Homo sapiens: one gene and its partners. The protein of the gene in region 1 interacts with the protein of each later gene in a pairwise test. Each region holds a gene or a part of one and is shown in the gene's direction. Other genes may lie near its edges. The genes, in order: LZTS1, LMNB2, CARD9 and NTAQ1.

The links.
Region 2: the proteins of LZTS1 (region 1) and LMNB2 interact in binary tests that used the Homo sapiens proteins (3 or more experiments, as listed by UniProt).
Region 3: the proteins of LZTS1 (region 1) and CARD9 interact in binary tests that used the Homo sapiens proteins (3 or more experiments, as listed by UniProt).
Region 4: the proteins of LZTS1 (region 1) and NTAQ1 interact in binary tests that used the Homo sapiens proteins (3 or more experiments, as listed by UniProt).

Annotation. Positions count from the first base shown.
Region 1 is NC_000008.11:20,300,950-20,308,521, reverse strand, and holds the start of LZTS1 (leucine zipper putative tumor suppressor 1), read left to right. Parts: upstream 1-4,558; 5' UTR 4,559-4,782; intron 4,783-7,572. UniProt on the Homo sapiens protein: Involved in the regulation of cell growth. May stabilize the active CDC2-cyclin B1 complex and thereby contribute to the regulation of the cell cycle and the prevention of uncontrolled cell proliferation. May act as a tumor suppressor.
Region 2 is NC_000019.10:2,453,945-2,460,957, reverse strand, and holds the start of LMNB2 (lamin-B2), read left to right. Parts: upstream 1-3,998; 5' UTR 3,999-4,024; coding exon 4,025-4,288; intron 4,289-7,013. UniProt on the Homo sapiens protein: Lamins are intermediate filament proteins that assemble into a filamentous meshwork, and which constitute the major components of the nuclear lamina, a fibrous layer on the nucleoplasmic side of the inner nuclear membrane.
Region 3 is NC_000009.12:136,363,649-136,370,669, reverse strand, and holds the end of CARD9 (caspase recruitment domain-containing protein 9), read left to right. Parts: coding exon 1-148; intron 149-232; coding exon 233-376; intron 377-794; coding exon 795-920; intron 921-1,372; exon of another isoform or gene 1,373-2,841; coding exon 2,842-3,033; exon of another isoform or gene 3,034-3,046; intron 3,047-3,412; coding exon 3,413-3,454; intron 3,455-3,824; coding exon 3,825-3,870; intron 3,871-5,452; coding exon 5,453-5,529; intron 5,530-6,110; coding exon 6,111-6,187; intron 6,188-6,268; coding exon 6,269-6,368; 3' UTR 6,369-6,507; coding exon of another isoform or gene 6,508-6,545; 3' UTR 6,546-6,714; downstream 6,715-7,021. Other genes in the region: DNLZ (DNL-type zinc finger protein), read left to right, coding at 6,956-7,021. UniProt on the Homo sapiens protein: Adapter protein that plays a key role in innate immune response against fungi by forming signaling complexes downstream of C-type lectin receptors.
Region 4 is NC_000008.11:123,419,758-123,426,778, forward strand, and holds part of NTAQ1 (protein N-terminal glutamine amidohydrolase), read left to right. Parts: intron 1-7,021. UniProt on the Homo sapiens protein: Mediates the side-chain deamidation of N-terminal glutamine residues to glutamate, an important step in N-end rule pathway of protein degradation.

The DNA of each region.
Region 1 (7,572 bases):
TCATAATGCTAGTGATGATGATGATTAACAATTTCTTGAAGTCATGCAGCACTTTCGAGGAAAGTAGAAAAACTACTTTCATTTTATCTCATTTGTCTTTATAACATGCAGAGAAGACAGAGGAGAGATGGTCCTGGCCAGGCGTGGTGGCTCACGCCTGTAATCCCAGCACTTTGGGAGGCCGAGGTGGGCGGATCACAAGGTCAGGAGATCGAGACCATCCTGACTAACACAGTGAAACCCCGTCTCTACTAAAAATACAAAAAATTAGCCGGGCGTGGTGGTGGGCGCCTGTAGTCCCAGCTACTCGGGAGGCTGAGGCAGGAGAATGGCATGAACCCGGGAGGCGGAGCTTGCAGTGAGCCGAGATGGCACCACTGCACTCCAGTCTGGGCGACAGAGCGAGACTCCGTCTCAAAAAAAATAAAAAATAAATAAATAAATTTAAAGAAAAAAGAGATGGTCCTTCCAATTCAGAGACAAGTCTCCTGAAGCCCAGAGATAAGAGATTCAAGGTGGTCAGAGACCTACAGGTAAGGAATGAAAATTCTTGTTATAAAAGTTGCACATTCAAAGCAACTCCACGGGAACTGTTTTCTACCCTGGAAAAAGACAGGGATGGTAAGACATCTTCTAAGGTCATGGGACCATTGGCTCTGACTGCAGAAAAACTGCTCTCCCTGGACCTTTACTGGGGTCACTGGGAAATCAGGAGTGGCCTCAGTTGATTCCTTAAAGCTTTGCTCAGTTGTCTAGGCTCATATTTTTTCACCGGCTTTTGGAGATTATCCAACCTCACTTAAATATAGTCAGCATTTCTTTTCTCTTAACACAAGGCCCTGGATTTTGAGACTTGAAATAATATTAAAAAATTATTTGATATTTTGTATTTTTCATAACACCTTTGACTTTATTAATTCTTTTCATTTTGTATTGTTGCCAAAAGATAGATAGGGAAAATGTTATTAGGCTTCTTTCACTGATAGCAAACTAAACCTCCAAAGGGTTGTGAGAAGACTGCAGATTGGAAGAAGTAGGAATACACGTGGATTTTCTGAATTTGAGTCAATTTATCTCTCTGAAACATCATCTCGCCTCCCTCCCCTCATAGCACTCATTCTAGTATTTTTTGAGCGCTTGCTTTGTACCAATAATGTGCTGAGTTCTGTGGATTCAATGTTGACTAAGACAGACATGATCTTTGAACAAGAAACTTGCAGAAGAGATGAACAGACAAACAAGAAGCCAGGGAATTAATTAAATTGTGATAGGTGACAGTACCTTGAGGAAGGCAGAGTTGTCTGTAATCCAAACAAGCTGCTGGCTTAACTGGTCTATGGGTCTGGTCCAGTGTGGCCAATCTTAGGTCCTAGAGATGAAGCATGATGCTCTGTATCTCAGGTGATGAATACAGGAGGAGGGTAGGAGATTTTTACAAGAAATGTTTTGTGACCCAGCTTTCTAGACTCGACTCAGGCAAGGGAGAGCCTGAGGGATGCAGAGTTTCACATAAGACACCTCTCGGGAACCCAGACACTAAGGAAGGGCAGCGCCCCTTCACTAGACAAGGAAGAAAAGGAGCCACACTGAGAACCTACCGGTGGTGTTGGGGGTAGACACACCCAGCCATTGCATTACCATACCCAACTGCTGAATCAGGGAGCTAATTATGGCTTTGTGCTGCTGGAGACCACATTCCTGAGGCTTTCATGCACACATACGGAACCATAATACATACACACATGCTGTGCTGTCCATCACTGGTCTCCTTCTCCACTCTGCCTTCTCATTTCCAGCCCCACTCTCTATGCATTCTGTCTCTAAAGTATCCCTTCCACAGGGTGTTTCTGTTGTTCCATAGGGTATCCCATTTCCACCGCTCATACACAAACCAACACACTGCTCATACCCTTTGCCTGACTCAGTCATTCCAGGAAGGCTGCACATCATACCCAGCTTTCACCTAGAATGTCACTGACAAAGGTGTCAGTGCTGAAGGAGGGTCCTTAAGGAGTATCTTCTCATCCAAACCATCCACTTTCCAGATGAGGAAACTGAGGCCTCATCAGGGACTCCAAACCATCCACTTTCCAGATAGGAAACTGAGGTCTCATCAGGGACTCCAAACCATCCACTTTCCAGATGAGGAAACTGAGGCCTCATTAGGGACATGGCTTGTCCAAGAGCATATAGTCAGCAGTAGGGCCAGAACAAAAAGTGGGCTTCCAGAGTCCTTTGTCTCTTCCATGGAATCTCACCTCCGACGATGTGAAAATGAGTTTGAAGTCTGGAGCCCACCTCATACCTTAATCTACCTTCCAGGAGTCTGCTCTTTCCTTAAAGCGCTGGAATGTTTGATCGATATTAACTCATTCAGCTAAAATTCTTGAGATACTCTCACCAGCAAGCAAGAATACATGTTCTCTGTCAATAAATGCAACACAAAGAAGCATGGCGCTTTAGAAAAAGAAGACATTATTTTGCCCTGGACGATAAGAGAAGGTGTGAGTAAGGGTTCCATATTTTGTCTCAGATTTTGAGAGGTAGAGTTAGAAGAGCAGGAGAAAAGCTTTTCAGACTGAGGGGCAGGTTTATACAAAGGTGGGGAAAAGGAGGTGATGTTCAGGAAAAGGCTGAGTAGCCTTTGGGGTTGACACTTAGAAATTGTCGTATTGCTTGTAATTACTGCCACGTGTATGTACTTACCGCAAGGCAGTGGGTTTCATTTAATCATCAGAACAAACCTATACATGAGAAATTCATTCATTTAACAAATACATATTGAGTGCCTACTATGTTGCCTGGCAAGTTCTAGGTGTCGGGGATACATCTATGAATAAAACAGACCAAGTCCCTCAGCCACCAATAAAAGAGAACAAGTTCCTGCCTTCAGGGAATTTACACTGGGACTTGTTACCTCATTTCACAAATAAAAAAAGAAAGAAAGAAAAAGAAAAACTGAGAAAGAGGGAGGGGAAGGTAATGGCTCAAATAACAAGCAGCGAAGCCTGTCTGTGTTCTTAAACCCTCGCGGTGCCATCTTTCAGGAAGCCTAGATTCGAAGGTCAGAGTCTTCAGGGTCAACAACCGAAGGCAGTGAGATTCCCCTACAGGGTTTTGAGCAGGGGTGTGGCAGAAACCATATGGCTTGTTTTCCTTTGAGCTGTCCCCCCTGCCACCACAATTCTATTTAATTTTTTTGTATTTATTTATTTATTTATTTATTTTGAGACACGGTGTCACTCTGTCACCCAGGCTGGAGTGCAGTGGCACTATCTTGGCTCACTGCAACCTCTGCCTTCCAGGCTCAAGCAATTCCCAAGCCTCAGCCTCCCAAGTAGCTGGGATTACAGGCTCCTGCCACCACACCCAGCTAATTTTTGTATTTTTTTTTTTTTTTTTTTTTAGTAGAGACGGGGTTTCACCATGTTGGCCAGGCTGGTCTTCAACTCCTGACCTCAAGTGATCCACCAACCTCGGCCTCCCAAAGTGCTGAGATTACAGGCATGAGCCACCGCGTCCGGCCCCCATGCTATTTATAATCAGATCGGCTATGTCAATCCTAATCCATTACATCTATCCCCCACCCCCCAACACACACACACACACACACACACACACACACACACACACACAGGCTTCTTTCAAGATGAGGCTAACACTCCTTGGGCAGAGCTGCCATCTTCCCGCCAAGCCTGGTTTTAGAGGATTAGCCTCAGTGCACCCTCAAGCCCCCAAGCCTCATGCTGCACCTAGCACTCCGGTTAACTGACCCTTTGTCCTACAAAACCTTGTAAGCTTGAATCCTCTCCTGGCTCAGTTGCTAGAAGTTAAAAGTGAGGGTGGTTGAGAAAATGATAGTATTATAAGGGGACTGGGTGAGACTAATAGCTATAAACTTGAAACAGGCCTCTGCTGTCACCTGAAACTCAGCTCCCTCAGAGCTGGAAAAGTTTGCTTTTGACATGTTTTGGGAGTGGGAGTCCCGGTGCTCTGGACTCTAGCCTGTAATCCTGGTGTGGTTCGCAATGCCCCTCACTTGGGTGCTAGTCCAGTCCTTGAACAAAACACACGCCCTTTAGTGCGAGTCGGGAGCGGGAGAGACGGTATTAAGAAAAATAAACTGGCGATTAAGAGGAAGGGGTAATGAAGAAAGGGGAACATACACAGAACGGGAGAAGGAATGGATTTTAAACAAAACTGGAGTAAGAATTTCAGGTAATGAAAGGGAAAAAAGGATGCGACAAGAGCAAGACAGGAACAATCGGAGAAAGGGGGCCAGGCAAGAAAGGAAGACTGAGGGGGCAGGGTCGCCCAATGGGGCTGATGGAAGTGAGAGCAGAGAGACGGGACCCGGGACCCCGCGCAGGCCGCGGGCGCGAAGGAGCCGCGAGGTCGCGAGCAGCCCCAGCTGTCAGCCCGGAACAAAGGCCGCCGAGCGGCACAGACCAGGCTGCCGGCAGCTCGCTGCCAATCAGCGGCGCCGGCTCTGGCCCCGCCCCGGGCCGGCCCCGCCCCGCCCCGCCCCGCCCCGCCCCGCCCCGGCTCCGGGACCCGCGCAGAGGCCGGCGCGCCTGGAGCTGGCGGGTTGGCAGCGGCCGGGCGGGGAGGCCGAAAGTTTCTCTGCCCGCCTCGGCCAGTGAGTGGGAGCCGGGAGCTGCATCCCGCGCAGTGGGACCGGCCCGGCCCGCTCAGCAGCTCTGGAAAAAGAGAGACGGGAACACACCGGGAAACACTGGGAAAAAAAAAAAGTCTCAAGTGCGCCCGAGGCGCAGGGGGCAGGTAAGGTGCGGTGGCCGGGGATCTCCTCGCCCCTGGAGGGTCTGCTGCCCTGGCTGCGGGAAACCGCTTTCCCCTCGCCGGGCCGGACCGTCCGTGCGTCCGCGCGTCCGTCGGTCTTTGTCTGTCTGTGTCCGTGGCTGTCGAGGTGTCTTTGTCTCCGCGTGGAGCTGTCAGGGTCTCCCCTCTGCAGGGTGGGCGCCGCTTCTCCGGCCCGGCCCAGAGGAGGTGACTGTGCGTCTGTCCTCCTGTCTTTGTCTTCGTGTCTCCTGCAGACGGGGTTCGTCTATTCCCAGCACCGATGCTGATCCTGGCGGGGACGTCAGTGTTAGGTGACACTGGTGTCGGAGGTGAAGAAGTGGGAGGTGGGGACGCGAGGCCGCAGGAGCAGGGGCCGCAGGAAGAGGGTCCGGCGGTCGGTCCGGGCCGCTGAACTTCGCCGCCTGGAACTTTGCAGATGAGCTGTGTCCACACCGGTGGGGAGGACACCGGTGCGTTGCAGCCAGAGATTTGAAAGGTTTCCCTCAAGGAATAAGTCACACGGGCGGAGGTGGTTAGAGAGGAAGGTGGTAAATCGAAGTGTCTAAGTGGCTCCCTGGGGCTGCAGCTTCCTGGGGTCGGTCCTGGATGTGCAATTCAGGAATTTAGTCAAAGCACCATGCACACACAGACAGCCCCACACTACCTTCACTTCTTCCACCGCCACCCTAGGCAGCCAGACCTCACCCCTCCACCCTGCCACAGGCTTTGCTCTGGCTGGAGGGGCTTCAGAGGTCGCAGCTTGGCAGCAACAGGCATCCCCGAGACACCAAGGGCCAGGTGATGTCTCTTTTTCGTGCTCCAAGTGGAAAGGTTTGAACTGTGGAGCAAATGAGCCTTGTGCTCGCCCACGAGTATGTCAGGCCTGGGAAAGTGCTCCAGACTTGTTAGCTTCGCAGTCTTCAATTTCCCAGGAATAAGAAGTGCTTAGGGATCTGGCCTCCTAAAGTGTTTCCTGTCTCACTTATTCCCTCCACACCGTCCCGCTGCCATCAGCCCCTCTACTCTCTGGTCCCGGGCGCTGGGAAAGTACTGAGGAGGCACTGAGTTCTGGACCATGCCGGGCAGGCGCTGCTCCTAATAAGGATCCCACACTCTGCTGGAAGTGCAGCCTAATAGGAATGCTGGGAGCCCAGGAGCCCAGCCACAAAGAGATGAGCTATCTGCTTGGCAGTTCCTGCACCAAGACCCTGAGAAGAGTCTGCGGGTACCGGCAAGAGGGTGTTTGCAACCTGAGCTTTCTCTAAGTTCAAAAACAATTTTCTGCAGGCATCCAGAGGGAGAATGGAGGTGCCCGAAGAGTGTGCGCATATGGGTATTAGAGATAGCATGTACAGACGGGAAAGGTGTTTGTGTTTAAGAGTGGAGTGGAACATAGTCTGTGGGTAGAAGTCTGTGGGCAGAGAGCATGCAGGCTAATCAGGCGTGGCGTTACACCTTGTATTTATCCAGCGCTTTTCTTTGGAGGCTCTTTCTGCTCATCATAGACGTTATCTCATACGTTATCTCCTTTATCCTCACAACATAACTACCAGGTTGGTGCGGTGGGCTCTCTGTGCCTGCCAGTGAAGAAACGGAGGCGTCAGAAGGGAAAGGCTTTCCCTAAGGTCCCACAGCTAATAGGATGGAGCAACTGGGAGTCCTAGTAAGAGGTCTCAGCTGGGTGGATGTGAGTGTGGGGCGCTCACTCTGCTTAAGAAGAGAAGAAAACTAGTAGAAAAAGAACGGGCATCTCTGTGGGTGTCTATATGCAAGCAAAAGGGAGGGCGGGACATTTGATGTGCTGAAGATGGTTGTTAGTTAACATTTATAGCAGCGGCTGTGTGCTTCACGAGGTAAACCTGTCTCAGCAGTTCAGCTTGTGCATTTGTGTATCTGCAGGAGGTGCCCCCAGCTGTGTGTGCCTGGGTCGATGTGGGGCAGGGGTGCTGTCATAGAAGGAGTGCTGCTGCGTGGGGTGCCCTGGGGAAAGCCAATGCTTTGGGAGTGTGTGAGGGAAAGATGTGCCTTTCAGTTTTGAGAAGCCGTGGGTCAGCGTGTATAGCAAAGCTATACATGGGCTCCAGACGTATATAAATGGCTTTCTAATCCTGAAAACTTATTTATATGCCTTTGCGCTTATTCAACGTTCATTTCATAAATATTCATTGGGCGCCTACCAAATGCAAGGCTCTGAGCTGTGCAGCGAGGCTAGGAAGATGAATAATGTAATGATGACAGACCTATGGGTAAGCACCTTATAGACCAGTGTAATGGATAATACCGTAACACTTAATGCCAGCCACTAAATCCACTGTGTGCCTGGAACTTTTTATTCATTATCTCATTTAATTTTCACTGCAGCCCTGCGGGGTATGTATAATTATTAGATGAGGAGAGTTAAGTAATTTAGCCAGGCTACAAAACCGAGGGGCAGGGATTTGAGATCAGCTTAGTAAGGTTCTGGACCCTGGCTCTGTCCATGTTATTCTGCTACCTTTGAACATAGAAACACTGTTTCTTCTGCATGGAATATTCCTGCCTGGTCTCTCTACCTTCTCCACTTAACTGGCTCCCACTTTTTTTTTTTTTTTTTTTTTTTTTGAGACGGAGTCTTGCTCTGTCGCCCAGGCTGGAGTGCAGTGGTGCGATCTTGGCTCACCGCAACCTCCACCTCCTGGGTTCAAGCAGTTCTCCTGCCTCACCCTCACAAGTAGCTGGGACTATAGGCGCCTGCCACCACGCCTGGCTAATCTTTTATATTTTTAGTAGAGA
Region 2 (7,013 bases), on another chromosome or scaffold:
CTGTCATCCAGGCTGGAGTGAAATGGTGCAATCATAGCTCACTGCAGCCTCCACCTCCTGGGCTTAAGCCATCTCCTTGACTCGGCCTCCCAAGTAGCTGGGGATACAGATGCACGCCACCACGACCAACTAATTAAAAAAATTTTTTTGTAGGGGCCGGGTGCAGTGGCTCACACCTGTAATCCCAGCACTTTGCGAAACCGAGGTGAGCAGATCACTTGAGGTCCAGAGTTCAAGACCAGCCTGGCCAACATGAGGAAACTCTACAAAAATACAAAAATTAGCCAGGCATGGTGGCGCATGCCTGTCATCCCAGCTACTCAGGAGGCTGAGGCAGGAGAATCTCTTGAACCCAGGAGGAGGAGGTTGCAGTGAGCCAAGATTGGGCCACTGCACTCCAGCCTGGGGGACAGAAAGACTCTGTCTCCAAAAAAAAAAAAAAAAAAAAAACTGTAGAGTATTGTAGAGTTGGGTCTTGCTATGTTGCCCAGGCTGGTCTCAAACTCCTGGGCTCAAGCCATTTTCTTGTCTCAGCCTCCCAGAGTGGCTGGGATTGCAGGTGTGAGCCACCATGCCAGGCTTCCTGCCTGGGTTCTAAGGCTGGGGGTCTATCTGGTAAGAGGGGAATAATAGCGAGTGAATGTTGGCTGTTGGAGGCAGGTGGGCTCTTTCCCCTGGTGTCCTCAGTAGGCTGGAAAGGGCATTAGATTCTCAGTGTGTGATTTACTGGGGTCTCTGGCAGAGGCTGAGCCAAACCCCCAAGGTGAGATGTGTAAAAAGGAGGAGTTCCCCAGGCAGAAGGAAGACCGGGCCAGTTCTAGGTCAGGAGGAAGTTATTCTCCAATTGGGGCAATTTTGCCCCTCTGGTGACATGTGGCAATCTCTGGAGACATACTTGGTTTTCATAACTAGGGGGCCGGGGTCGGACGCGGTGGCTGACGCCTGTAATCCCAGCAACGTGGGAGGCCAAGGCGGGCAGATCATTTGAGGTCAGGAGTTCAAGACCAGCCTGGCCAACATGGCAAAACCCTGTCTCTACTAAAAATACAGAAACTTAGCCGGGCATGGTGGCAAGTGCCTGTAATCCCAGCTACTCGGGAGAGTGAGGCAGGAGAATCGCTGGAACCCGGGAGGCGGAGGTTGCAATGAGCCGAGATCACGCCACTGCACTGCAGCCTGGGCCACAGAGCGAGACCCGCCTCAACTAAAAATAAAAATAAAATAAAAAATAAGTATGAGGCTGGGATGCTCGTGGCATGGAGTGGGTGGAGACCGAGGATGCTGCTCAATACCCTGTAATGGACAGCACCTCCTGACTCCAACCCCCTGCAACAGAGAGTGATCTGGCCCCAAATATCTAGTGCAGAGTTGGAGAAACACTGCTGTATAGGTTGTCTTGTTAAATTACAATTTTGGGGGGTTTTTTTTGGAGACGGAGTCTTGCTCTGTCGCCCAGGCTGGAGTGCAGTGGTGTGATCTCAGCTCACTGCAACCTTTGCCTCCTGGGTTCAAGCGATTCTCGTGCCTCAGCCTCCCAAGTAGCTGGGATTACAGGCGTACACCACCACGCCTGGCTAATTTTTGTACTTTTTGGAGAGACAGGTTTTTGCCATTTTGGCCAGGCTGGTCTCGAACTCCTGGCCTCAGGTGGTCTGCCCGCCTCGGCCTCCCAAAGTGCTGAGATTACAGGCATGAGCCACCGCGCCTGGCCTTGTTAAATAAAATGTATGGCAGGCCATTGTTTTAGACAATGGGGTCTCTAGTCCCCAGCAGACCAGATAAAATTGGAATGGAGTCACTAGTGCCAGGTACCACGTAGTCAAACTGATCTTTTATTTTTTTTATTTTTTGAAATAGGGTCTCGCTCCGTTGCCCACACTGGAGTGCAGTGGCGCAATCATGGCTGACTGCAGACTTGAACTCCTGGATGCAAGCCATTCTCCTGCCTCAGCCTCCCGAGGAGCTGGGACTACAGGTGTGTGCCAGCACATGTGGCTAATTATTAAAAATTTTTTTGGCTGGGTGCCGTGGCTCACGCCTGTAACTGCAGCACTTTGGGAGGTCGAGGTGGGTGGATCACGAGGTCAGGAGTTCAGGACCAGCCTGGCCAAGATGGTGAAACCAGGTCTCTACTAAAAATACAAACATTAGCTGGGCATGGTGGCGGGTGCCTGTAATCCCAGCTACTCGGGAGGCAGAGAATTGCTTGAACCCAGGAGGTGGAGGTTGCAGTGAGCCGAGATCATGCCATTGCACTCCAGCCTGGGTGACAAGAGCAAGACTCTGTCTCCAAAAAAAAAAAATTTTTTTTTTTGGAGACAGAGTCTCACTATGTTGCCCAGGATGTTCTCAAACTCCTAGGCTTAAGCGATCTCCCCATCTCAGCCTCCCAAAGTGCTGAGATTACAGGTGAGAGCCACCCGTACCTGGCCTCAAACTGAACTTTAAAGGGTGCAGGTTTTCAAAAAAAAACATTCACAGCCACCAAGCCAAAGGGGACCGGTTAACCTGATAGGGAAGTACCCTCAAAATAGAGGGGGTTAAAACAGACCCTATGAAAAAAGTAACTTTGAAACAACCAATTGGTTTTTATTTCGTATTTTTATTTTTACTTTTTTTGAGACAAACTCTCACTCTGTCACCCAGGCTGGAATGCAGTGATGTGATCAGGGCTCACTGCAACCTTGACCTCTCTTGCTCAAACAATCCTGCCACCTTAGCCTCCCAAATACCTAGGACTATAGGCGCCCAGCTAATTTTTTTTTTTTTTTTTTTTTGAGGTGGAGTCTTACTCTGTTGCCTAGGCTGGAGTGCAGTGGTTCAATCTTGGCTCCCTGCAACCTCCGCCTCCCGGGTTAAAGCAATTCTCCTGCCTCAGCTTCCCGAGTAGCTGAGACTACAGGCATGTGCCACCATGCCTGGCTAATTTTTGTATTTTTAGTAGAGACGGGATTTCACCATATTGGTCAGGCTGGTCTCGAACTCCTGACCTCATGATCTGCCCGGCTTGGCCTCCTAAAGTGCTGGGAATACAGGTGTGAGCCACTGCACCTGGCTAATTTTTTTATTTTTATTTTTAGAAATGGGGTCTTGCTATGTTGCCCAGGCCAGTCTCAAACTCCTGGGCTCAGGCTATCCTCCCACCTCCGCCTCCCAAAGTGCTGGCATTACAGGCGTGAGCAAACCACTGTACCTGGCCTGGCTTTTATTTTAATTCTTATTTCTCCTTTCTTCAGCCTTTTCTGCCTGTAATGCAGAATGCCCATCCTCTCTGCTCAGCTCATTGGAGTGCCTATTTAATAGATTGAATGCTATCCAATTCATGAATTGCTAATAAGAGCCAATGAGATCATTAAACTCAATTTGTTGAAATTCATACTCCTTGACAGCCTCTTCTGGACATTTTATATCAGTGGCATTGTACACTATATGGCTTTTTTTTTTTTTTTTTTTTTTTTTTGAGACAAAGTTTCTCATTGTTGCCCAGGCTGGAGTGCAGTGCCGCGATCTTGGCTTACTGCAACCTCCACGTCCCAAGTTCAAGAGATTCTCCTGCCTCAGCCTCCCAAGTAGCTGGGATTACCGGCGCGCGCCTCCGTAGTAGAGATGGTGTGGGGGGGTCTCCCTATGTGGTCCAGGCTGATCTCGAAATTCTTTTCTCAAGTGATCCACCGGCCTTGGCCTCCCAAAGTGCTGGGATTACAGGCGTGAGCCACCACGCCCGGCCCTATATGGCCTTTTGTGTCTGGTTCTTTGAACACGTTTTGAGGTTCTCTAAGTGGGGAAACAGGTACTAGAAAGCAACCCAACGCTGTTTCCTCGTGGCGGAGCTGGGAGTTTGCAGCCAGGAAGTCTGTCTCTGGAGTCAGCGCCTCTGCGAAGCGAGAGCTGGACGGAGACTTCAACTTCCGGCGTGCCCCGCGCGCGCCCGGCGGTCGGACTACCAGTCCCAGGCTGCCCCGCCGCGGCGGGCGGCGGGCGCGGCGCGGCGCGGCGCCATCTTGCAGCCGGCGGCGCGGATTGAATGAGCCCGCCGAGCCCGGGCCGCCGTCGGGAGCAGCGCAGGCCGCGAGCCGCCGCCACCATGGCCACGCCGCTGCCCGGCCGCGCGGGCGGGCCCGCCACGCCGCTGTCGCCCACGCGCCTGTCGCGGCTGCAGGAGAAGGAGGAGCTGCGCGAGCTCAACGACCGCCTGGCGCACTACATCGACCGCGTCCGCGCGCTGGAGCTGGAGAACGACCGGCTCCTGCTCAAGATCTCAGAGAAGGAGGAGGTGACCACGCGCGAGGTGGGCGCCGGGGCTTAGGGGCCGGGCGGGGGTGCAGCCGGCAGGCCCCGCCCACCGCGGGGCGCGCGATCGCGGGGACCCTGGGCGGGGGTGCAGACGGGGACGGGCCCCGGCTTCGGGGGTTTCCGCGGGGTTTCGGGGGGCCCCTGAGTGAGGGGTGCAGCTCGGCCAGGTCCCTCCCACCGCGGGGTGGGCAATCGCTGGGACCCTGGGTGCAGACAGGGACGGGCCCGGGTCTCGAGGGTCTCCAGGGGGTTTCGAGGGGCCCCTGAGTGAGCGGTGCAGTTCGGCCAGGCCCCGCCCACCGCGGGGTGCGTGATCGCGGGGACCCTGGGCGGGGGTGCAGACGGGGACAGGCTCCGGCTCGGGGGTCTCCAGGAGGTTTGGGGGCTTCTGAGTGAGGGGTGCTGCTCGGCTAGGCCCAGCCCACTGCGGGGCTCCCAGTCGCGGGGAACCCTGAGCTGGGATGCAGACGGGGACAGTCCGGCCTCGGGGATCTCCGCCGCGTTTCGGAGAGTCCCTGAGTGAAAGGTGCTACTCGGCCAGGCCCCGCCCACCACGGGGCGCGCGATCGCGGGGGACTCTGAACGACTCCCGGCTTGGGGTCTCCAGGGGGTTTGCGGGGGGCTCCTGGATGAAGGGTGCAGGTCCTGGCCACCGCGGGGTGCGCGATCGCGGGGACCCTGGGCAGGGGTGCAGACCGGGAAGGGTCCCGGCTTGGGGGTCTCCAGGGGGTTTCAAGGGGTCCCTGAGTGAGGGGTGCAGCTCGGCCAGGCCCAGCCCACCGCGGAGTACGCGATCACGGGGGACCCTGAGCAGGGGTGGGGTCAGCCTGGCCTCGGGGATCTCCAGGGGGAGACCCTGAGTGAGGGGTGCCACCTGGGCAGGCCCTGCCCACCGCAGTTTCCGAGATCTTGGGGGACCCCTTGGGAGGGGTGCAGACCGGAGTGGCCCATTCTCTTGGGGACCTCCAGGGGGTTTCTAGGGCACTGAGTGAAAAGTGCAGACCAGGAATGCCCCACCTATGGAGGGGGTCCCAGGAGATCTTCCGTGTCCTGAGTGAGGGCTGCAGAGGGGCCTCCAGCTAGCTCTGGGGACCCTTCCGTGAGAGGTGCATTTTGGGGCCATGGGGGTTACAGACTAGGGCTCCCCACCAAAGAGAGGTCCTGGGGATTTGGGGGCTCCCTGAGTATTGGGCTGCAGCCCCCCATATGCCTCGTCCCTCAGAGGATTCCAAGGAGACTTGGCGGACCCCCCCCAACTGAGGGGGTGTGAGTGGGAGTCTCTGGGGATGAAGCTGGGTATTGGGGTATCTGGGGTGGAATGGGGGTGGTCTCTGGGCTCCAAGGAGACTGGGGGGCCCAGGCCCTCTGAGGAGGCCCAAGATGGGGTGTGTGGGGGGTCTCCCTGGAGTCTCTGGGGTGAGTCACGTGGTCTCAGTTCTCCCTGGAGCTTTAGCGAGTTCCCTGATGAATCCAGAAGAGATTGGTGACTGGGGTGGGAATTAGGCCCCTCATCTCTCACCAGGCCCAGGGTGGGTAGGGGGCCGAGGGAGAGGTTCTGATACCTTGGGGTCCCACGGGAAATTTGGGAGTCCCTTATTTGTGCCCTGGTGTCAGCGGTGGTCTGGCAGGTTCTGCCCCCAAGAGAATATGAAGGAAGGGTGAGAGTTGGGATCTTGGGTCCGGTGGAAAGTGTTGAGGTTCTGAATGGGCCCCGAGGCTTCAGTGCAGACTGAAGGAGAAGAGGCGGGAAAGTCTGCCCACCAAGGGGACATGAGGTCGGGGTGTCTTGGGGTCTGGGTGCAATCTGTCCTGCCCCCCAACCTAACCCTGGGGAGGCTCTTTGTCCCTCCCACTGGCCATGCCCAATCCAAGGACAGGACTCCAGAACGGGGGGCAGGCAGGAGCACCCACTTGATTCCTGCCATGGGTTGGGGTCCTGGGGTCCCTAGGCCCCAGTGTCCTGTTGGGAGAGCTGGGTGCCGAAGTCGGGATTTGCAGCGCCCAGTCCCCACTCGCCCATCTGGAGATCAGAGGACGTGGTGGGCTTCTGGGAGAAGAGCTGCTTGTTGAGGGGGTCGGGTCATTTCTGGGAGCCACTTACCCTCTGTGTGACCTTGGGCTAGTCGCTTACCCTCTCTGGGTCTCAGTGCCCTCGCCTTTGGAATGGGTGTAATTATAATACCCACCTCTTACTTGTGTGTGGGGCCACAGCAGGTTAACTTTTGTTCAGTAGCTCCCTGTGGGTTGTTTTCACAGTGCCCTGGGGACAGGGAACCTGAAAGAATGTAGCTGGTGCCTTCAGGGAGGTAGAAGGAAGATCAGTGCTTGGTGGGATCCCCTGCTTTTCTTTCTTTTTTTTTTTTTTTTTTTTTGAGATAGAGTCTCGCTCCGTCGTCCAGGCTGGAGTGCAGTGGCGCGATCTTAGCTCCCCGCACCCTCTGCCTCCCGGGTTCAAGTGATTCTCCTGCCCCCGTCTCCCGAGTAGCTGGGATTACAGGTGTTCACCACCATGCCCGGCTCATTTTTGTATTTTTAGTAGAGACAGAGTTTGGCCTTGTTGGTCAGGCTGGTCTCAAACTCCTGGCCTCAGGTGATCTGCCTGCCTCGGCCTCCCAAAGTACTGGGATTACAGGTGTGAGCCGCCGTGCCTGGCCAGTCCCCTGCTTTTCAATTAGTGTGGCTTTGGGCAGGCCCCTGTGTCTCTTGGAGCCTCCATCTTG
Region 3 (7,021 bases), on another chromosome or scaffold:
CGAGGACGACTGCAAGGTGGAGCGCAAGCACACGCTGAAGCTCAGGCACGCCATGGAGCAGCGGCCCAGCCAGGAGCTGCTGTGGGAGCTGCAGCAGGAGAAGGCCCTGCTCCAGGCCCGGGTGCAGGAGCTGGAGGCCTCCGTCCAGGTGGGGCCGTAGGCAGGGCAGGTGCAGCCCAGGCAGGGCAGTGGGGGCCTTCCCAGCCAGGCCATTGCCTTTTGCCCCCTTCAGGAGGGGAAGCTGGACAGGAGCAGCCCCTACATCCAGGTACTGGAGGAGGACTGGCGGCAGGCGCTGCGGGACCACCAGGAGCAGGCCAACACCATCTTCTCCCTGCGCAAGGACCTCCGCCAGGGCGAGGCCCGACGCCTCCGGGTAGGAGGGCAGGCGGGGAGACATGGCCCCTGGGGTCCAAGCCAGGCTGGACGGGCTGAGCTCCGCCCACTCCGTGCCTGGAAGGTGGGGTGTGGAGACCCCAGTGCAGCGCCTCCACTCACCCACTCCTGGAGGCACAGTGGACGGTGCCCTCTCCTTGCCCGCCTGCCCCCCATGGCAAAGGCCAACCTCTGGGCTCATGGTGCCTGAGGCACAGCAGTGTCTGAGGCCTGCCGGAGGGCCCTGTCCTGCCGCGGTCTGGAAGTGCAGGGCTGGTAGGGGCCTGGGGACTCCTATGGCCTCCCCCGACATCCCAACTGGCCTGACCACATGCTTCTGAGCCCCTGCCCGGAGTATACCCCAAGGGCCAGAATGGGGGGCCTCAGGCCTGTGGGGGCTGAGCTGCCGCCCCCTGCAGTGCATGGAGGAGAAGGAGATGTTCGAGCTGCAGTGCCTGGCACTACGTAAGGACTCCAAGATGTACAAGGACCGCATCGAGGCCATCCTGCTGCAGATGGAGGAGGTCGCCATTGAGCGGGACCAGGTGGGCACTCGCAGGGGCAGGACAAAGCACCCCACTCGCGGGTGGGTGCACCAGGGCCACGGCCCTTGAGGGCAGTTGTCAGAGGATTTTTAATCTTTGTTATTTGTTTTTGAGATGGGGTCTTGCTATGTCACCCAGGGTGGCCTCAAACTACTGGCCTCAAGCAATCCTCCGGCCTCAGCCTCCCAAAGTGCTGGGATTGCAAGCTGAGCTGCCACACCTGGTCTGTTTTTTAAATGACAGAAGCAATACTTAACACTAAAAAAAAGTAAACGATGATGAAGTCAATACTTCCCCACCCCAGCCTACTGTCAGGGAAAACCGTGTTCAACCTTCCCGCTCCACCTTACAGACTTACCTGTCATCTATCCATGTATCCATCTGTCTATCATCTATCACCTATCTATCTATTTATATATTTGGTTTTGTTTTACAAAAATGGAAACATTCTGTCTTGTTTTACCAGTAGCTTTTTTTAATCTTAAAAAAAGCTTGGCTGGACGTGGTGTCTCTCGCCTGTCATCCCAGCACTTTGGGAGGCTGAGGCGGGCGGATCACTTGAGCCCAGGAGTTCCAGAGCAGCCTGGGCAACACGGTGAGATCCCTGCTCTACAAAAAAATGCAAAAATTGGCCTGGCGCGGTGGCTCACGCCTATAATCCCAGCACTCTAGGAGGGCGAGGCAGGCGGCTCACTTGAGGTCAGGAGTTCGAGACCAGCCTGGCCAGTATGGGGAAACCCCGTCTCTACTAAAAACACAAAAATTAGCCTGGTGTGGTTCCGGGCGCCTGTAATCCCAGCTACTCAGGAGGCTGAGGCAGGAGAATTGCTTGAACCCAGGAGGCAGAGGTTGCAGTGAGCTGAGATCACGCTACTGTACTCCAGCCTGGGTGACAGAGCGAGACTCCGTCTCAAAAAAAAAAAAAATTAACTGGTCGTGGTGGCGCATGCCTGTGGTCCCAGCTATTTAGGAGGCTGAGGCTGCAGCAAGTCACCATTGCGCTATTGCACTCCAGCCTGGGCCACGGGAGTGAGGCCTGCAAGGCCTCCAGTGCTACGTGCTGTGAGCCGGATGGAGCGTCGCGGGGCAGGGCTGTGTCTGCTTCCCATGCCCCGTCCCAAGTCCCATCCTGGAGGTTGTTTCCAATGGACACCATTGCTGCTTCGGCTAAATGCTGGATGGCACTTTGTCCACATCAGGAGCCTTAAAACGAGACCCCTGGGGCTACAAAGGAAGCCCCGGCCCCCATGAGAGCAGCCCAGGCTCAGAGCTCCTGTCTCAGCCCCACCTCAGCCTCACTCGCGCCTGGCCCACGCCAAGGCAGGGGAAAAGGGCAGATCCAGCTGTGCCCCCATGGGGGTTGGTGTGGCTCCCAGGGCGGGGGCTCCCACGGGACTTCCCGGGAGCGCGTTGGCCAGGGATTAGGGAAGCTGCCAGCCGTTGCTCCAGTCTGGGCAGAAGGGGTTAGGTGAGGGCCTCCCAGCCTCGGCTGCAGGGGTGGTCAAGCCGTCGTGTTTGCACATTCGCTCCTGCGTCTCAGTGTCCGCAGTGAGGACAGGGGTGGTAAAGAGTGCTGCGGTCACGAAGGACGCTTAGCTATGGACAGTCAGGGTCTCCATATCAAGCCGCGTCCAAAATTTATCAAATGTGCACGTGTGGGGGTACATAGCACACGCTGTGTCCACCGGGGGTGCAGGCTTGGGAGGAGACAGAAGGGCAGCAGGGACAACTGTCACATTTACAATCCCCCACGTGCTGACTTCGTGTCCGCAGAGCACACAAATGGAGGGGCTGTGACCAGCCTCCGCGCCCAGCGGCTTGACGTCCTCCGGAGCCTCTGCTTGGAGTTGGGCGGCCGGGCCGAGGGCCCAGGGCAAGCTTGGGGCCCTCACTGAGGGTCGGCCTTGTGCTGTCCCGTCAGGCCATAGCCACGCGGGAGGAGCTGCACGCACAGCACGCCCGGGGCCTGCAGGAGAAGGACGCGCTGCGCAAGCAGGTGCGGGAGCTGGGCGAGAAGGCGGATGAGCTGCAGCTGCAGGTGTTCCAGTGTGAGGCGCAGCTACTGGCCGTGGAGGGCAGGCTCAGGCGGCAGCAGCTGGAGACGCTCGTCCTGGTGGGCCTGGGGCCTGCGGCAGGGAGGGGAGCCGGCGCGTGGGATGCAGGGCCAGGGGAGCACGGAGCCTCAGCCCCGGCCTTCCCGACCCAACCCTTCTCTGTGACGGGCCCCAACCTAACCAAACCCCTCCTGGCAGTGGGGTGAGGGCACACGAGCAGTTCAGGGTCCCAGCAGGAAGTGGGGCTGCAGGGCCGGGGTGGGTCCTGGGCCTGGCCATCAGGCAGCCTAGCAGGTTGTTCTGGGCATGGAGGGGGCCTGGTGTGGCTGAGGGCATGCCCAGGGCTCCCTGGAGGATCCCGCTCTGTGCCCTGCCCACCCTGTGCCTGGGGAGCCCTCTGCCCTCACAGCCCACCCACCCCATTTTCTATGACCACAGAGCTCCGACCTGGAAGATGGCTCACCCAGGAGGTCCCAGGAGGTGAGTGAGACCCCAGCCAGCACGAGGCTGGCCTTCCTTCACCTGGGGTCCTGGCTGAGCTGCCACCAGGCATAGCCCCACACTGCCCGTCACATGGCCCTGCTCGGTGGGCTGGGCTGGGTGGAGGAAGAGCAGGTGGCCAAATGCTAAGGCCTCTGATGGCTCAAGGGGTAAGGTAAGGCACGGACAGTGCCCACCTCCTGGCCGCCCAATGTCCGTCTGCTGGGCACCTGAGTCTCTGAGAAGCTCTGTGCAGGGGGTGACGGCAATGGCTGCACCCAGCTGAGGGCCAAGGGCTGGGGTGGGCAGTGTGGCCGGGTCCAGTCCTTGGCGAAGTGGCCTAATGGGACATCTTGACTCTCTTTGGAAGCTCTCACTCCCCCAGGACCTGGAGGACACCCAGCTCTCAGACAAAGGTGAGGTGGGGACAGCAGTACACCCAGAGGCCTCCCAGCTTCCCCAAGTGAGGCCCATCTTCAGCACAGGCAGCCCGTGCCGCAATGCCTGTGTCAACCCCCACAACCCCCACTCCACAGACAGGGAAACTGGGGCTGGGGATAAGTAAAATGGTCAAGGTCACCTAGAGAACAAACTACAGAGCCCAGCTGGAACCCAGGGCCCCAGCTAGTGGGACAAGTGTCCCCTGGGGTGGAGAGTGTGGGGGTCTGGGCAGCCCCCATGGGCTGCAGAGGTGAGCAGGCCCACCGTCCTGAGAGTGTGGGGCCCCTCTGGGCAGCCCCCACGGGGTGCAGAGGTGAGCAGGCCCAGTCCTGGCTGCTCCAAGCTTCCTCCTGGACAGAGGGAGGTGGTAACGAGCGAACGACCAGGTGCATGAAGCTAGAAGATGGGGCGAGATGGGGCCCCACGTGGCTTGAGGGAAAGGGCTGAATGCAGGGGTGGCCAAGGGCCTGCTGTGTCCCGGTGCAGTGGGGGTAAGGCAGTGGCAGGGGCTTCTAGCGGGCAGGGCAGGCCCCCTCTGCCTGTCTGGGGGAAGGACTGGGTGGCTAGCTGGGAGCAGCTCCCGAGTGTCCAGGAGTGGGCAGTGGTGATGAGGTAGGTGTTTGCACTGAAGGTGCTGTCAGGTAGGGGTTGGGGAGGGCCCAGCAGAGGGGTCCTGGGAGGCTGCACCGGAGTTGGACAAGCTTCCTGAGTACCAGGCCGTGGCCTCCAAGCAGAGGCGGAAGGGGAAGGAGGAGCCGCAGACGGGGAAGTGAAGACCAGCGCCTTTGGCTGCAGCTCAGAACACTTGAACATGGGGATGCCAAGCCCCCATGTAGGCACAGAGGCGAGCAGGACCCAGGAGTCCGGCTCAGGCACTGCCCCCATCCCCCTGGGTGGCTGTGGCAGGAGCAGGGGCAGGTGTGAAGGTTGGAGGGTGAGCAGGGGAGGGGCTGGCTCTAAGGGGCTGCCAATGGCCAGGACAGCCCTGGCCTGGCCCTCACCGCAGTGGGGCTGAGACTGGACGTGCGTGGTTTCTGCCCAAGGGTCCTGATCCCTGGTCTGCCCAGGTCCTGGCGGTTTCTGAGGGGGTCCAGCCGCCTGAAGGTTCTCTCCCAATTGCTGCAGTACCCCTGCCCCCACTTCAGGAGGACCCAGACAGCCACTGTAGCTGTCCCCAACTCTCTCCCCAGGGCCGCCATGCCCACAGATGCTTTGGAGTGATGGGGGACGGTGCTGCTCAGGCCCAGGGTTTAAGTTCCCCCGAGGTCTGGGAGGCGTTCCTCCCTGGCAGGCAGCCAGCTCGGGGGAGGGATGGTCACTGGCGGGAGCGTTGGGCCTGGGCTGGCATCTGGCGGCCTCCTGGAGCAATGAACAGGCAAGCGAGGCCATAAGGCCTCAGTCTCATCTACAGAAAGCAGAGTCTACACTGGACCCATGTGGGGATCCCACCAGGCCTTGGAAGACAGCCCCACTGCAATGCCGGGGAGGGGTGGGGCAGCCGTGCTATACGTGGCCCAGCAGATGGGCAGGTCCCACAGGCACGACTCTCCTTTCCAGGCTGCCTTGCCGGCGGGGGGAGCCCGAAACAGCCCTTTGCAGCTCTGCACCAGGAGCAGGTTTTGCGGAACCCCCATGTAAGGCTTCCCCGGGGTGGGGTCCTCCCAGCCGTGGGCCTCAGGGTGACCGATCACAGGGAGAGTGGCTCCCTGCCCTGGGCACCCCCTGCGGTGGCCCCGACGACAGCTGAGGAGTGACCACAAGGTCTCTGCCCACAGTGCTCGGGGTGCGGTGTCTGGGCTGCGAAGTGGATCCCCCTTTCTTGGGCACTGCAGCAGCTTGGGGGGCTTTTTGGACGTGGATGTGCCTGGTCCTGGTTTTCCGAGGGCCTTTACAGTGGATGAGGAGGTGAACACAGGAGTCCTGAGAGCAAGCACCACCTCGGGCTTTGTTGTAGAAACAATGGCCCGGACCCCAGGCTGGAGCCGTGGCTTGGCCTCCTGGGTGTGTCTTGGCATCTGAAATGCAGGCTACCCACACCGGCTCACCTCCAGGGGTACAGGCAGGTCCCACAGGGAGAGCTTGGCGCTGAGCTGAGGCTGTCTGGGCTCCTCGCCTCCCAACCAGTCTGCAGTTACAGGGGCCAGTGGGGGGCGGGTGAGAAGGACGGGTTCCCTCAGGGGAGCCGGCCGGAGCCCGAGCCTTCCCCCTTCTCCAGGACGCAGGCCTGAGCAGCGGGGAGCCGCCCGAGAAGGAGCGGCGGCGCCTCAAAGAGAGTTTTGAGAACTACCGCAGGTAGGCGGGCGGCCCCCAGGCTTCTCCAAAACGGGCTGGGGAGCGGCAGCCGGGTCGCGCCTGAGACACCTGTCTTCACAGGAAGCGCGCCCTCAGGAAGATGCAGAAAGGATGGCGGCAGGGGGAGGAGGACCGGGAGAACACCACGGGCAGCGACAACACCGACACTGAGGGCTCCTAGCCGCAGCAGCGCAGGCCCCGACCAGGGCACACCCACCGGCCCGGCCTCCTGCCACCCGGGGGTGCCGACGCCCTGGGGCGCAGACTTCCCCGAGCCGTCGCTGACTTGGCCTGGAACGAGGAATCTGGTGCCCTGAAAGGCCCAGCCGGACTGCCGGGCATTGGGGCCGTTTGTTAAGCGGCACTCATTTTGCGGAGGCCATGCGGGTGCTCACCACCCCCATGCACACGCCATCTGTGTAACTTCAGGATCTGTTCTGTTTCACCATGTAACACACAATACATGCATGCATTGTATTAGTGTTAGAAAACACAGCTGCGTAAATAAACAGCACGGGTGACCCGCATTCCCGCTCGGACACTCGCGCGCAGCCCCGCGGCCGTCCCTCCTCGCTGCGGCCCGCGGTGTCCTCGGGGTGCGAGCTGCACGTGGACGCAGGGCCCCCTCAGGCCGCCAGGGGGCGGCATAGCGCAGCGCGCCCCCGACCCGGAAGACGGAAGCCCAAGAACGCCGCTTCCGCCCGGCGCCCACTTCCAAGATGGCGGCGGGGCGGGGCCGGGGCAGGGCGGACGGAGCCGGCGAGCGGGATGCTGCGGACTGCGCTGCGCGGCGCGCCGAGGTTGCTGAGTCGCGTGCAGCCCCGGGCGCCCTGC
Region 4 (7,021 bases), about 100 Mb from region 1:
TCCTTCCTTCCTTTCTTCCCTCCCTCCCTCCCTCCTTCCTTCATTCCTTTCTTCCCTCCCTCCCTCTCTCCCTTTTTTGAGTCCCTTATGCTTTTGTTTAGAGTTTAAAGAACATTTCAGATATTATCCAATCACATATTTTGTTTGAGTTTTTTTCCCTTCCAACTTTTATTTTAGATTTGGGGTTACATGTGCAGGTTTGTTACATGGGTAAAGTGTATGTGTTGGGGGTTTGGTGTACAAATTATTTTGTCACCCAGATAGTGAGCATACTACCAGATAGATAGTTTTGATCCTCACCCTCCTGTCACCCTCTACCCTCAAGTAGGCCCCATGTCTACTGTTTCCTTTTTTGTGTCCATGTGTACTCAAGGTTTAGCTCCCACTTATACGCAAGAATATTCAGTGTTTGCTTTTCTGTCCCTGTGTTAATTCACTTGGGATATTGGCCTCCAGCTCCATCCATGTTGCTGCAAATGACATGATTTTTGTTCTTTGTCATTGCTGTGTAGTATTCCATGGTGGATGATATATACCACATTTTCTTGATCCAGTTCACCATTGATAGGTGCCTAGGTTGATTCTACATCTTTGCTATCATGAATAGTGCTGTGATGAACATATATGTGCATGTGTCTTAATAGTAGGATTTATATTCCTTTGGGTATATACACAGTAATGGGATTGCTAGGTCGCATCATAGTTCTGTTTCAAGTTCTTTGAAAAATCTCCAAACTGCTTTCCACAGTGGCTTAACTAATTTACATTCCCACCAGGAGTGTATAAGCATCCCCTTTTCTCCACCAACTTGCCAGCGTCTGTTATTTTTTGCCTTTTTTTTTTTTTTTTTTTGAGACAGGGTCTCACTCTGTCACCTAGGCTTACAGTGCAGTGGCATGATCATGACTCACTGCAACCTCAACTTCCTGGGCTTAAGTGATCCTCTCACCTCAGCTTCCTAAGTAGCTGGGAGTACAGGTGGGCATCACCACTTTTTTGACTTCTTAAATTATTTTTATTTGTTTATTTTTATTTATTTATTTATTTATTTAAGACGGATTCTTACTCTGTCACCAGGCTGGAGTGCAGTGGTGCAATCTAGGCTCGCTGCAACCTCCGCCTCCTGGGTTCAAGCGGTTCTGCTTCAGCCTCCTAAGTAGCTGGGACTACAGGCATGCACCACCATGCCCAGCTAATTTGTGTATTTTTAGTAGAGACGGGGTTTCACCATGTTGGCCAAGATTATCTTGATCTCTTGACCTCTTGGTCTGCCTGCCTCGGCCTCCCAAAGTGCTGGGATTATAGGCATGAGCTGCCGTACCCGGCCTATTTATTCATTTTTTTGAGACAGAATCTCACTCTGTCACCCAGGCTGGAGTGCAGTGGTGCAATCATGGCTCACTGCAGCCTCGACCTGGTGTCAATCAATTCTCCCACTTCAGTCTCCCGAGTAACTGGGGCTACAGGTGTGCACCACCATGCCCAGCTAATTTTTATATTTTTTGTAGTGTGGGGTTGTGCCATGTTGCCCAGGCTGGTCTTGAACTTTTGGGCTCAAGCAGTCTTCCTGCCTTGGCCTCCCGAACTGTTGGGATTACAGATGTGAGCTACTGCACCTGGCCTGACTTTAAGAATAGTCATTCTGACTGGAGTGAGATGGTATCTCATTGTGGTTTTGATTTGCGTTTCTCTAATGATTAGTGTTGTTGAGCATTTCTTCATATGCTTATTGGCCATGTGCATGTCTCTTTTTCCTTTTTTTTTTTTTTGAGATGGAGTCTTACTCTGTTGCCCAGGGTGGAGTGCAGTGGCTCGATCTCGGCTCACTGCAACCTCTGCCTCCCAGGTTCAAGTGATGCTCCCAGCTGAGCCTCCAGAGTAGCTGGGATTACAGGTGTGCACCACCATGCCCAGCTAAGTTTTGTATTTTTCTTTTCTTTTTTTTTTTTGAGACGGAGTCTTGCTCTGTTGCTCAGGCTGGAGTGCAGTGGCGTGATCTTGGCTCACTGCAAGCTCCGTCTCCTGGGTTCACACCATTCTCCTGCCTCAGCCTCCCGAGTAGCTGGGGCTGCAGGTGTCCACCACCACACCCGGCTAATTTTTTGTATTTTTTTTTAGTAGAGACAGGGTTTCACCGTGGTCTGGATCTCCTGACCTCGTGATCCGCCTGCCTCGGCCTCCCAAAGTGCTGGGATTACAGGCGTGAGCCACCGCGCCCAGCCTAAGTTTTGTATTTTTAATAGAGACAATGTTTCACCATGTTGGCCAGGCTGGTCTTGAACTCCTGACCTCAAGTGATCCACGCGCCTTGGCCTCCCAAAGTGCTGAGATTATAGATGTGAGCCACTGTGCCTATCTGCTTTTGAGAAGAAGTATCTGTTCATGTCCTTGGCCTATTTTTTAATGGGGTTGTTTTTTGCTTGTTTATTTAAGTTCCTTATAGATTCTGGATATTAGACTTTATCAGATGCATAGTTTGCAAATATTTTCTTGCATTCTGTAGGTAGTCTGTTTTTTGTTTTGGGTTTTTTTTTTTGAGACAGGGTCTCACTCTGTCACCCAGGCTGGAGTGCAGTGGCACAATTATAGCTCATTGCAGACTTGACCTCCCAGGCTCAAGTAATCCTCTCACGTCAGCCTCCCAAGCAACTGAAATTAGAGATGTGTGCCAGCATGCCTGGTTAATTTTTTTTACTTTTTGTGGAGACAGGGTCTCTCTATGTTGCCCAGGCTCATCTTGAACTCTTGGGCTCAAGTGATCTTCCTGCCTGGGTTTCCCAAAGTGCTGGGATTACAAGCACGAGCCTCACCATGCCTGGCTGTAGGTTGTCTATTTACTCCATTGATAGTTTTTTTTTTTTTTTTTGCTGTGCAGAGCTCTTTAGTTTAATTAGGTCTCACTTGTCAATTTTTGTTTTTGTTGCCGTTGCTTTTGGAGTCTTCATCATGAAATCTTTGCCAGGGCCTATGTCTGGAGTGGTATTTCCTAGGTTTTCTTCTAGGGTTTTATAGTTTTAGGTATTACATTTAAGTCTTTAATCCATCTTGAGTTGATTTTTGTATATGGTGAAAGGGAGGGGTCAAGTTTCAATCTTCTGCATATGGTTAGCCAGCTATCCCAGCATCATTTATTAAATAGGGAATCCTTTCCCCATTGCTTGTTATTGGACTTTGTTGAAGATCAGATGGTTGTAAATGTAAATATGCGGCTTTATTTCTGGGTTCTCTAACCTGTTCCATTGGTCCGTGTGTCTGTTTTTGTACCAGTACCATGCTGTTTTGGTTACTATAGCCTTCTAGTATAATTTGAAGTTGGGTAGTGTGACGCCTACAGCTTTGTTCTTTTTGCTTAGGATTGTTTTGGCTGTTTGGGCTCTTTTTTGGTGCATATGAGTTTTAGAATAGTTTCTTCTAATTCTTCCACAACTCGCTTGCTCTTCCTTCCTTTCCCTCCCTCCCTTCCTTCCTTCCCTCTCTCCCTCCTTCCCTCCCTCCTTCCCTCCTTTCTTTCTGTCTCTCTCTTTCCTTCCTTCTCTTCTTTTGTTTTCTCTTCTCTTCTTTTTTCTTTCTTTGTCTTTCTTTTCCTTCCTTTCCCTCCTTTCCTTCCTTTCCCTCCTTTTCCTCCCTTTCCCTCCTTTTCCTTCCTTTCCCTCCTTTTCCTTCTCTTCTGTTTCTCTTTTTCTTTCTTTCTTTCTTTTTCTTTCCGGAGGGTCTTGCTACATTGCCTAGGCTGGTTTCAAACTCCTGAGCTCAAGTTATCCTCCCACCTCAGCCGAGGCATTGGGATTACAGTTGTGAGCTACTGCACCCCACCTACAGGTATTTTTGTTTCAGCTGTGACTCCTTGTATTTCCGAGTATAAGATCATCTCCCCCTTTTTTTTAACATTGAAACTTTCATGGGATTCTCCTACATGATATTCGTTATGCTCTTGAAAAACAATTGCTGACTAAAAGGGACTAAAAAGTCAGTGACTTTTACGAAGTTTACATTTTTTTCTGTGTAACATTTACATATATTTCAAAAATAACAGTGTATGTTCAAGCCACATTATGTATTCAGCTTACCAGTGGTGCTTGTGGTATCTGTGGATTCATGAACTCTTTGTAGTTTTTATTATTATTATTATTATTTTTAATTTTTAGATGGAGTCTTGCTCTGTCACCCAGGCTGGAGGAGCAGTCGTGCAATCTTGGCTTATTACAACCTCTGCCTCTCGGGTTCAAGTGAGTCTTGTGCCTCAGCCTCCTGAGTAACTGGGATTATAGGTGCATGCTCCTACGCCCGGCTGATTTTGTGTTTTTATTTTTATGCGTTTTTTTTTTTTTTTTTTGAGATGAAGTCTCACTCTGTCACCCAGGCTGGAGTGCAGTGGTGCGATCTTGGCTCACTGCAACCTGTGCCTCCCGGGCTCAAGTGATTCTCATGCCTCAGCCTCCCAAGTAGCTGGGATTACAGGTTTGTGCCACCACGCCTAGCTAATTTTTGTATTTTTTTTTTTTTAAGACGAAGTCTTGCACTGTTGCCTGGGCTGGAGTGCAGTAGCACGATCTCAGCTTGCTGCAACCGCCGCCTCCCAGGTTCAAGCAATTCTCCTGCCTCAGCCTCCTGAGTAGCTGGGATTACAGGTGCCTGCCACCACACCCATCTAATTTTTTGTATTTTTAGTAGAGACGGGGTTTCACTATGTTGGCCAGGCTGGTCTTGAACGCCTGACCTCATGATCCACCCGCTTCGGCCTCCCAGAGTGCTGGGATTACAGGCGTGAGCTGCTGCGCCTGGCCATTAATTTTTGTATTTTTAATAGGGTTTCGTCATGTTGGCCAGGCTGGTCTTGAACTCCCAACCTCAGGTGATCCAAGGTCTTAAACTTCTGACCTCAGGTGATCCGCCTGCCTTGGCCTCCCAAAGTGCCTGGATTACAGGCATGAACCACCTCGCCTGGCCCCTTTGTATTAACTCTAAGCCCACCCTTAGAGGGGAATGAACAAAGAGAAACTACAACCTATACCTCTTCCCATATCCCTCCGAATTAATGACACCCTCTTCCTTTCTGCATGCATCTTTTATGGCCTTCTATGATGCTTGCCAGTTATGGATTTGTATGTCTCTGCTCATGGTCTGTAAGCTCTAATTTATCATCATATCCTCCAAGCACTTAGCACAGTATTTTGTACATTATAAGCTCTTGAAGGTATTTGCGGTAAACTCCCGAAAAACTTGTATAAGCCAGAGAGATAATTGTCTTCTTCAAACCTGGCCTTAGAACATTTAGATTAAGGAAATTTTATTGTGACGTAATATGACATATACCATATGTCATGTTGAAACAGTCAATAAAATTTTTTTTTTTAGAGGTTGTCTCTCTCTGTCGCCCAGGCTGGAGTGCAGTGACACAATCTTGGCTCACTGCAACCTCCGCCTCCTGGTTTCAAGCGATTCTCCTGCCTCAGCCTCCCGAGTAGCTGGGATTACAGGCATCAGCCACCACGCCCAGCTAATTTTTGTATTTTTAGTAGAGACAGAGTTTCACCATATTGGCCAGACTGGTCTCAAACTCCTGACCTCAGGTGATCCACGTGCCTCAGCCTCCCAAAGTGCTGGGATTACAGACGTAAGCCACCATGCCCGGCCCAGTCAGTAAATTTTTATTACTCTATAGTACATATCATATGAAGTAGTCAGTAGCAGTAGCAATCTTCCCACCCCCCCACTTTTTTTTTTTTTTAACCACAACCATCACTTTTCCCTTGTAGTTTCCTAGTTATTTTAGAGAAAAGGAAAACCATGGGAGAAAAACATGTCCAACTTCCGTATTTTAAGCCTAGTTTTATAGAGCATTTGAGACAGGCAAGGCAAAGATTGATGAACTGAAAGAGTGTCTACTTCTGTAAGATGGTGACCATCCTCAGGGCTGTTCATGCCTTGCTTCATTTTTAGGTAGCATGGCGTGGATGAAATTAGGCTTTGGGCCGGGCGTGGTGGCTCACACCTGTAATCCCAGTATTTTGGGAGGCCGAGGCAGGTGGATCACCTGAGGTCAGGAGTTCAAGACCAGCCATGGCCAACATGTGATGGCCAACATGTGAAACCCCATCTCTACTACAAATACAAAAATTAGCCAGAAGTGGTGGCATGCATCTGTAGTCCCAGCTACTTGGGAGGCTGAGGCAGGAGAATCGCTTGAATCCAGGAGGTGGAGGTTGTAGTGAGCTGAGATTGTGTCACTGCACTCCAGCCTGGGTGACAGAGCGAGACTCCGTCCCCGCTCCCCCCTGCAAAAAAGAAACTAGGCTTTGACAGACTGAGCCACATTCTGTGAACAGAGTGTTAGTGTACCTCATTTTGAGCAAAGGTGCGTGTATCTTACTAGAAAAAGATAGGAACCCAACAGCTGAGCTGTGAGTACTGCCCGAAGTGACTGGTTTCCTGTGCATGGAGGTGCAGCTCAGTTACTGCTCTGTTTGATGTACTACTGGGCATCACTTTACTTAGGTGGGTTCTGACTACTGCTTCAGATAGCCAAAGACCTGTCACGTAGAAGAGAGATTCATCTGGGGCAAAGGTATGGGAAGATTGATTTCAGTTCAGTATGAGAAAGAACTTTCTAAAAATCAGGCCTCTTGAGAAGGCCAGGCACAGTGGCTCATACCTGTAATCCCAGTACTTAGGAAGATTGAGGTGGGAAGATTGCTTGAGCTCAGCAGTTCAAGACCAGCCTGAGCAACATGGCAAGACCTTGTCTCCACACACACAAAAATAATTTTTAAAATTAGTTGGGTGTGGTGATGTGCATCTGTGGTCCCAGCTACTCAGGAGGCTGAGGCTGGGAGTTTGAGGCTGCAGTGAGCTGTGGTTGAGCCACTGCACTTCATTCAGCCTGGGCTATGGAGTGAGACCCTGTCTCTAAAAATAAGCATAGGCTGGGCACGGTGGCTCACTCTGTAATCCCAGCACTTTGGGAGGCTGAGGTAGGTGGATCACTTGAGATCAAGAGTTTGAGACCAGCCTGGCCAACATG